2 linked regions of the Homo sapiens genome follow. The protein of the gene in region 2 interacts with the protein of the main gene of each other region in a biochemical or structural test. Each region holds a gene or a part of one and is shown on either strand. Other genes may lie near its edges.

Region 1 (5,168 bases), on a different chromosome or scaffold from region 2:
AAAGGATTCTTGGCTCTTCTCTCCCCTACCCCAAGGTGTTCATCAGGATTGCATGAAACTTTAATAAAACAGAAAAGATAAATCACTGGAATAGTCTTTGGAAAGAAGGAAAAATTGACACGAGCAAAAGGAAAAAACAAGATTGAGGATTGGTGGGGAGTGTGGGAGTTTTGGATGATGAGGCAAAACAGATCCCGCCCCTTGAAGAACATTTTGGAGGTGTGCAAACTAAGACACCCAAAGAGGCTGGATTGAGATGGACGCAAAAACTATTAGTGGCCACACACAAATGGAGGCAATGGGATGGGACTGCCTTCCACCATCATGGGCTACAACATCTTGGAATTACAGACAGGAAAACATTTGTGATCTTGAGCCTAGCTAGCAGGGGTACAGTTTGGCTTCTACCTGTCAACATGTCTGCTTACAGAGATATAATTTTTAAGAGTTTTGAAATAGTACATCTAAAGACACATCTTATTTTAGTAAATCATTTCTCTTGAGGGGCACTGAGATTAGTCTTGCTTTTCCACTATGTGTAATTATTGCATATGCCTCCGTGAGTATTTCCACAGGCCAGATTTGGAGGAGCAGAATTACCAGATCAAAGCTATTGCCAAATTTCCTTTCAAGTAGCTTGGATCAATTTATTCTCTCACCAGCAATGTTTGAGATTGTTTTCATTGACATTCCTTAGCACATTATTTTTTTTTAATTTTCCAATCAAATGAGCTAATTTATGTTTGTCTCAAATTAGAGAGTCTTGTTAAAATCATATGTAGGTCATGTGTTATTTTTTAATGCCTGCAAAACTCAAAATCCTGTATTTCATCTCTTTACCTCTATATTATATTACCCTATAATATAAATTCTAAATCCCATAATTCCATTGTAAACTTTTTAAGACTTTCTTGGTGTGGGGGACTTGCAGGTAAATTGCTGAAAAGTGATCACTGAAAAACTTGAATATTGTTTTGTTCATGATTTAATTATGATAATGTAACCAAATCTGTATTACATGTTCCAGTTTTTTTTCAGTGAATGATGCTAGACCTTTACCTAAACAAAAAGCTTCTTTAGGAAGGACCTCCCTGTATAAAATAGCATCTGCAGTTTCCTTACTCTTATCTTTAAAAATACCTGTTCCTTAGAGCTGGAAATAATCACTTAATCACATACCTTAGATTATATCCCTATTATTTCAGCTTGTATTGAATTTATTGATGAATGCTCTAAAATATTGCTCATTAATATTTCAATTTCTGTTACAAATCATATAATTTGGGATTATCTATTCTTGTATCAAATATGAAGTGATTCTTAACAAATTAATTTCTGAAAGTATAACTTTATGGCTAAGATAATACAATCATAAATCAAAAGCCCTCTCTTCTTCATATTAATATTACCAAGTAAATAAATAATTTTTTGTTTGGTTCTGCTTAGATTCTTATGACCAAAGTTAATGGCTACTTCCAAGGACGATCTGATGTGTGAATTTTCTTAGTTCAGAAAATGTAAACTTTGGTGCAGAAATATTAGTAAATATATTTTATCATAGTTTGGATTTTTCTTTATACTCCTTCTTGATATAAATTGAAAAATTAAACCTTTTGGATCATTTTTTGAATCACTTTCAATGTATTTTGATGCAAAATGAGAGGACTAAAAAAATAAGAAACCTATCATAATAGTATTGTACTGATATAAATTTCTTTGGTGTTATAATTGTTAATCATTGTTAATCATGTTAATTATGCCAATTTCATTAACATTTACTTAATTGTAGGCATGTCAACTACAAATGCAATGCAAGATTCTTGATTGGATCCTGGATTTAAAACATAAAAAGATTCTAAAGGACATGTGGATAATTAGGAAAATTTGAATGTGTATCACATCTTAGATAATAGTATTGTGTTGATGTTATGTTTCCGTGGTGTTGTAATGTGTTATAGAAGACTGCCTTTATTTTTAGGAGATACATGCTCAAGAATTTAGGGGTGACATGTGTCCTAAAGTCAGCAACATACTTTCAAACCATTCAGGGAAAAAACTGTGCATATGTGCATGCGTGTGTGTGAATATATATATACACATATAGAGAGAGAGAAAAGGACAGGCAGAGACAGAGAAAGACAAAGCGAGAGAGAAAGTAAATGTGGCAAAAAGATACCACTGATTAATACACATGATGAAAATATGGGTGTTCGTTGTACTATTCTTTCAATTTTTATATAGATTTGAAACATTTCTAAATAAAAATTGGGAGGGGGAAAAAACCATATTTAGTTAATGAAGGCATATTTACATTGTATAATGTTTATTAAGAGCCTAGAGGGACAATATCTTATATATCTAAAATAATCACTACATATGAGATGAGAAATGTCTCAGTGACTTGATATAAATACTTCAAACATCATTTTGCTCTGAGATAATAGAATTAGTGTACTACCTTTGAATATCTCCAAAATTCCACTTATGATATGGATGTTTGACACAGACTTCAAATACTCTTCAATCCTCCAGAAGCTTCTCAAGCTCAGAAACAATCTTCTTCTCACACTGACCTATGCAAGAAATGTTATAAAATATCAATATAAATATTCTGTCCAAACCAGGTCTATATTTAAGCACAGATTCATATGCGCAAGACAAAGAATGTTTGAGCGAGTCTAAAGATAATTCAAACAAAACTCCACTCGTACATGCGCTATCTTTAATACCAAAAGGGAAGCTTTCCCCAAATCACCCAGATGAAAGTCGAAAAGCATCCTCACTATAGATCGCATTCATTTTGAATACATCCTGCCACACAGAAAAACACTATCACAAGCTTGCTGAACTGAATAATTGAGAGTCAAATCCAATTGGAAAGGACTGTGATTGTTTTCGTCTCTAAAACTGCATCACCGTAACTGAATTCAAGAGCTGTGTTGTCCCTGCAAAACCCTGCTTAGGTTTTTAGGCCTTCTTTTAAAAATGCAGAAGCTAAACCAGTGTGGCAATTAGTGAAAGAGGACTGCAAAAATAACACAATAAATATTTGCTCAGATCAGTCAAAAATTGTAGGTAAAAATATAAGTGTTTTAGAAATGCTTAGAATGTGGACACGAGGAGGTAAGGAAAGGAAGTATTGGGCTTAATTTCTCTTTATTTTTCAACTCCACTGAATGCTTGTTTAAACTCCCACTTGTCTCTGATATGGTAAGCTAGAAAAGCATTTTAGATGTCATAAGAATGGATCAGCGCTCTCGTGATAAAGGGCTAAGAAAGCGTGAGAAGACAGATGACAAAAAATAATAGCGGAGTTCTAGGGTCCTTTGCTTTCTTTTTCTTACCTTCACTAACCAATCTGCTCATCTGATCCGGCAGAAACACAGCAACTGACCAAACAGAGAGATGAACAAGCCAGCCAATGCTCTTTCCAGAAATTTTCACAAGCCTTTCACTGATGAGACCAGTAGACTGAGCTGCTCAGTGCAAAGCCATTCTTTTTATAATTGGTCCCATGGAAAAAGAGTTGTTTTTGTTCAAGTCCGATTTGTGCTAAAGAGGCAGTGGGAAGTCCCGGGAGGTGGGGAGGCAGTAACTGACAAAGCCACATCAAGCCACAGAATGGTGTTTCTTCCCCTTTTTCGAAAAATGAAACCTATCTACGAAACTGTCTCTTATTAAAATAGTTTATGGTTACACATTTTGTAAGAACCCTAGCAACAGAATTAAATTTCCTTTCTAGAAAAGTACATTATCTGGGATCCTTCACCCAAAAGAAAGCCAAAGTCACATATGACTTTAGGAAATTCTGTTTCGTTACTAATCTATAATTTTTAAGAAGTATTATTTCTCAATGGTACTTATAATTTTTAAAAATGTAAATGAAAAAAATTTTCTCGGCCGGGCGCAGTGGCTCACGCCTGTAATCCCAGCACTTTGGGAGGCCGAGGCAGGTGGATCAGGAGGTCAGGAAATCGAGACCATCCTGGCAAACACGGCGAAACCTCGTCTCTCCTAAAAATACAAAAAATTAGCCGGGCGCGGTGGCGGGCGCCTGTGGTCCCAGCTACTCGGGAGGCTGAGGCAGGAGAATGGCGTGAACCCGGGAAGTGGAGCTTGCAGTGAGCCGAGATCGCGCCACTGCACTCCAGCCTGGGCGACAGGGCGAGACTCCGTCTCAAAAGAAAAAAAAAAGAAAAAAGTTTTCCCTCTCCAAATACCGAAGGTCAAAACAATAATACATGGTGTGGGCAAAGTTGTGAAGAAACAAGCACTCTCAAACACTACTGATGAGATTGTAAACATATTTAGAGGGCAATTTCCCAGTATCTCTCAAATACAAATATTCATACCCTTTGACCCAACAATTGTATTTTTTATAAATTTGTCCAAGCTATATGTTTACACTTGTACACAAAGACTTATGTGAAAAGATATTTGTTGCAGCATTGCTTGAGAAAATAAATGACTAGAAAAAATTATATCCATAAATAAGATATTGGCCAAGTAAATGAGAACGTATGCATACTTAAAATCCTATGTAGGTTGTGTGCGGTGGCTCACGCCTGTAATCCTAGCACTTTGGGAGGCCGAGGCAGGTGGATCACTTGAGGTCAGAAGTTTGAGACCAGCCTGGCCAACATGGTGAAACCTTGTCTCTACTAAAAATACAAAACTTAGCCACGCGTGGTGGTGGGCACCTGTAATCCCAGCTACTCGGAGGCTGAGGCATGAGAATCCCTTGAACCCGAGAGGTGGAGGTCACAGTGAGCTGAGATTGTGCCACTGCACTCCAGCCAGGGTGACAGAGCGAGACTCCATCTCAAAAAAAAAAAAAAAGAAAAAAAAAGATCTCTAACATATATTGTTTAGCAAGAACTCATTTTCCAGTTTGTATTTTTAAGGAATATATGTATATACATGCTTATGTAATAGAATATTTCTTTTTAAAATTTTGTATTTTAATTTTTGTAGGTATACAGTAGGTGTATATATTTATGGGGTACATAAGATGTTTCGATACATGCATATGATGCATAATAATTACATCATGAAAAATGGGGTATCCATCCCCTCAAACATTTATCTTTTGTGTTACAAAAAATCTAATTATACTATTTTAGTTATACTAAAATGTAAAATTAAGTTATTATTCACTACAGTATCCC
Region 2 (4,565 bases):
AGTGAGAGTAGCAAGTTTGAGCTATCCTATATAGATCTATAGGTTAACATAAAAAAGACTGTTACCTATATATCCTGCAATTAATCCTAAGTCTCCCAGGCCCCAATGTCACATAAAATAATTCTTAAAGTACAATTTCCTTTTAAATGAGCCAAAATTGTAATAATTGAGGAAAAAATATTCTTTTCCTAACTCGCATCTGAGTTAACAAAAATTCTCAGAGCCTTTTTAATGAGCTCTTTGGCTTGTATAACTACTATTCTATAAATCTATGAAGTATGTGGAAGCTAACAAAAAAAAGAGCTGTAAGCTCCACACATATTGTGAGGAAGCTTCTGGGAAAGAGAAGAAATTTTTGCTTAGCAGTTTGGGATTTAATTTGTACCAAATCTAGTTAGCAAAATCCATTTAATTAACCTCTAGTATACTTTATCCTATATAACATTATCCATATAGGATTATTTTACACAGTTGCAATCCTAAACTATACATACAAATATTCCAAGTAAGGAGTTCCAAAAACCATTTGATTATAGACCAGCAAAACACACAAGACCCTATGGGGAACTCTTCCTGAGGTAAAAAAGGCTGGGAACACTTGGCTTAAGCAACAGTATTTATATACAAACTTTAGTTTCACTACTAAAAATGTTTGAAAGAAAAAAAGTCTACATACATGTTCAGAAGTAATAGCTTATAATCTTTTTTAATGCTATGGCAAGTTAGGCATTATGCAAATTACTAAAGGTTATATGCTATTAATCCATACCTGTAGCCTTTGGTTTATTATGACTGGATGAACCTTTGTCCCCAACACCTCTTGACATAAAGGCAAGTTTGGGAGGCCTCCTTTCCTGCGTCACACTCTCTGAAACAGTAAGCATGTTTTTTAAAGATAAAGGCAAATTCTTATAGAAGAGAAACAAGGAATGACAGTAACAAAATAAAAAAACCCTCTTTCCACAAAAAGGCAGAATTTTTAGTTTTACAAATGCCTTTTAAAGGCCATCAAAAGTATTGAAAAAGATAATACTATGGGGGAAAAAACCAATGCTGTATTTCAAAATGTAATTTCTATAAGAAAATACCCTCTCAAAATACAATTCAGCTAAATGCTTTAACCTCTTGAAAATTTAATCACTTGTAGTCAATTTTATTTGATCTCTTAAAACACTACAAAGAAAATCTTACTCGGTTTTTTACAGCATTTCCCAAATCAGCAGGCTTAGAACACCCCTGTGTATTATGAAGTGTTTCGAACTCAAATATTTCTTGAAGATGCTGAGATAAACAAAGATAAACAATTTCTTTACTGCACGGAACCAGAGCCTTTAATATGCTAATGTGCATTGTGAACTGCTCAGGGAGAAACAAAATAAACTTATTGATAAAAATTTTTGTGCCACTTTGCTTAGCATCTCAGATTAATATTATTTCATGAACACAGTTTGAAAAAAGCCTGGTTAGGAATATGTATCATGGTTAGGAAAGAAAGTTCTGGTTAAGAACATATATCTGTTTTTAAAAACATATATGTTAAGAATAACACAGATGTGTATACAAACACTTATACATATAAAAGAGGAAAACATAGAGAATTATGCATAGATTAAAAATACAGAAAGCCAGAGACACACAACAATAATATATTTGAAGAAAACACTCACAATTATTTCTGAAATATAGGTGTAATAAGTGTGGCAAACTTGTTTTGAATACAAAGACCACTCTAGACCTTAAAGCCCAGCAATGATCATAGAATACTCCTAAATACTGATCAAGGGAATGTAGAAGAGGCAGTGTGAAAAGTTCTTCCTTTGAAAAATTCAACAATACATCCGTGGAGTCCAACACGACACTTAGGAGTCATACCTGATAAAGCTGTGTGTCAGCAAAAACGATATCACCCACAGTGGATTTGAGGACAGAAAGAAAGAAATAGGAAAATTTTTACATTTTAAACACAAGGAAAAGACTTTTCTTAAAAAAAGAGGAAATTTACTAAATGAATTATATGTAAATACTTGGTAACTTTTTTCCATGGTTGAAAGAGGAGGGGGATGTGTTATTAAACTATATCTTAAACATCTCATAATATGATCCAATAGAATATGAAAATATTTTAATTCAAAAATTATACCAATTAACCACGATTTCGATCAAGTGATATAATAAGAGAAAAGCTATGTACTAATACTGTGGTCCCCACTTATCCACACTTTTACCTTCCACGGTATCAGTTACCCACAGTCAACCACTGTCCAAAAATATTAAATAAAAAATTGCAGAAACAGACAATTCGTAAGTTTTAAGTTGCATGCTGTTTTGAGTATTATAACGAAATCTTGCACCATCCTAATCCATAACCCCTGACGTAACCCATCCCCGTCCAGCATCTCCACACTGTGTCTACTCCCTGCCTTGTTAGTCACTTAGTAGCCACCTCAGTCATCAGATCAACTATTGCAGTATCACAGTGCTTACATTCAAGTCACCCTTATTTTACTTAATAATAGTCCTGAAGTACACGAGTAGTGATGTTGCCATATTGTTATTATTGTCTCTTCTCTGATTATTGTTTTCAATATCTTATTGTGCCTAATATATAAATTAAACTTTATCAGAGGCATGAATGTAGAGGAAAAACACAGTATACGTAGGGTTCAGTACTATCCATAGTTTCAGGTATCCACTGGGGGTCTTGGAAGTATCCCTTGATGAAAGAGGAGACCACTGTTCTTTTATGATGTTGTCATTCAGATATCTTTAAATAGCACCCATGACAGATACTTCAGAAGGAAAATCTTAGTCACTGAGAAGAGTTCCTAAATTATAGCATATAAATTTCCTAAAGAAAAACAACTCCCACTATTAACTGTAATTAACTGCATATAACATTTTTAAAGTATGTTCACATGTATACCACGATATAGATCCATTATATAGTTAGTAACCATTATAACAAATGAAGCAAGTGCTCTTCCCTTTGTTAGGCTTTGAAGGTAGCCTGGCAGGACTGGAGAGCCAACTGGATGGCCGGTGGTGACAGTTCTGCAGGTGACACTAGGGAGGAGCTCCAAAGATTAGGAATGTGAGCAGGGGGGCACTGGAGTTGGAAACTGTGGCTACCTTCTGTCAAAGGCTGTCTGAGAGGGGGTCAAATATCAGCTCTGAAGAAGAAGACATTCCATCAGAATTCTATACAGACAAAGGGGCACAAACCACCTCTAATTGCCCTCCAGCAATTACACACCAAATATTTCTTATTACTTTGTCACAACTGTGTTCATGGCCCAAAACTACTTGGGTCATGAAGCAAAGCTTTCAAAGTTAAATGAATTATAAGTGATTACCAACTCAGAAAAAGATAAATATGGGATGGAAAGCAAGGTAAGATAAATTCAGCTGGCAATTTTGTGTGATTAAAACAAACCTGATTAAAGATATTAAAAGATATAGAAGATAATTCCACCAAACAGCATGAGTAAAAATGTACAGAGCAGCCCTATTCATTCTAATCAAAAGCTGGAAACAAGCTATTCTACAGAAGAATAGAGAAACAAATTATGGTCTATTCATACAATGGAATACTACATAGCAATAAAAAAGGAACAAACTACTGATAAACAGGGCAACATGGACATTGTGTTCAGCAAAAGAAACCAAACCAAAAGTATCCATTATGTATACACAGCAAGATTGCATTTAAATGATAAAATTCACAGCTTATCCATCACTTGTTGATTTAACCAGAAAAAGAAAAATCCCTTGGAGAATCTTGAGCAGGAAATCATAACAATAAACTAGTGAACAAGTTATTGTTCAAATCAAATGAAATGTCTATGAATTTGAATGACCCAGTAAATTAAGAGAAATTGTTTAATTAATGTACCGCTTAACATCAGCAGCCACAAGAGCATAATTCAGACTCAAATGAGAATTTAACATCCACAGAAATCTTGTGAAGAAAATACAGTTTACTTGAGTAGAATGAGGTATTATTAAACCCGATGCCAGAAATATCCTACATAGCAACTATTCAAAAATCTCTAAAAGGTTGGGTTCCTGCTCAGAATAAATATTTTCCATAATAGTATATGAAAAATTCTTCAAGAAATGCTTGAAGGTGCCATATAGATAACACCAAAAGTTGCATGCTGATATCTGGTGCTTCAAATTATCCTTCTTCAGGGCTCCAGCTCTAACTGTCTCATAGGACCAGGAGTACTGCCTATACAGGCAACATTCATGGTGACTCCGATTGACAAGCAATCTCTATGAAAGCCATGTATTACTGTCTATCAAAATGTAAAATGCATAGCAATTCTACTCCTAGGAAGTTATCTTTTTATACTGGCACACATGCTAACTGATACACAGATACAAAGTTATTCACTGAAGCACTGTTTATAACAGCAAAAGATTGAAAACAACCTAAATGCTCATCAGTAGGAGGCTGGTTCAAAAATTATGGTACATGCATAAAATGAAATATAATTCAATGATTTAAACAAAAGACCAAGTATACAACTTATGTACTAATATGAAATAATCTCTAATATCTA

What was found.
Region 1: the proteins of CYLD (region 2) and TASL interact in a test that uses a peptide from one of them, tested with the Homo sapiens proteins (one large-scale study listed by IntAct).

What each region holds. Positions count from the first base shown.
Region 1 is NC_000023.11:30,574,294-30,579,461, forward strand, and holds the start of TASL (TLR adapter interacting with SLC15A4 on the lysosome), read right to left. Parts: upstream 3,474-5,168; 5' UTR 3,345-3,473; intron 2,574-3,344; 5' UTR 2,459-2,573; intron 1-2,458. UniProt on the Homo sapiens protein: Innate immune adapter that mediates the recruitment and activation of IRF5 downstream of endolysosomal toll-like receptors TLR7, TLR8 and TLR9.
Region 2 is NC_000016.10:50,772,482-50,777,046, reverse strand, and holds part of CYLD (ubiquitin carboxyl-terminal hydrolase CYLD), read right to left. Parts: intron 1,882-4,565; coding exon 1,873-1,881; intron 869-1,872; coding exon 770-868; intron 1-769. UniProt on the Homo sapiens protein: Deubiquitinase that specifically cleaves 'Lys-63'- and linear 'Met-1'-linked polyubiquitin chains and is involved in NF-kappa-B activation and TNF-alpha-induced necroptosis.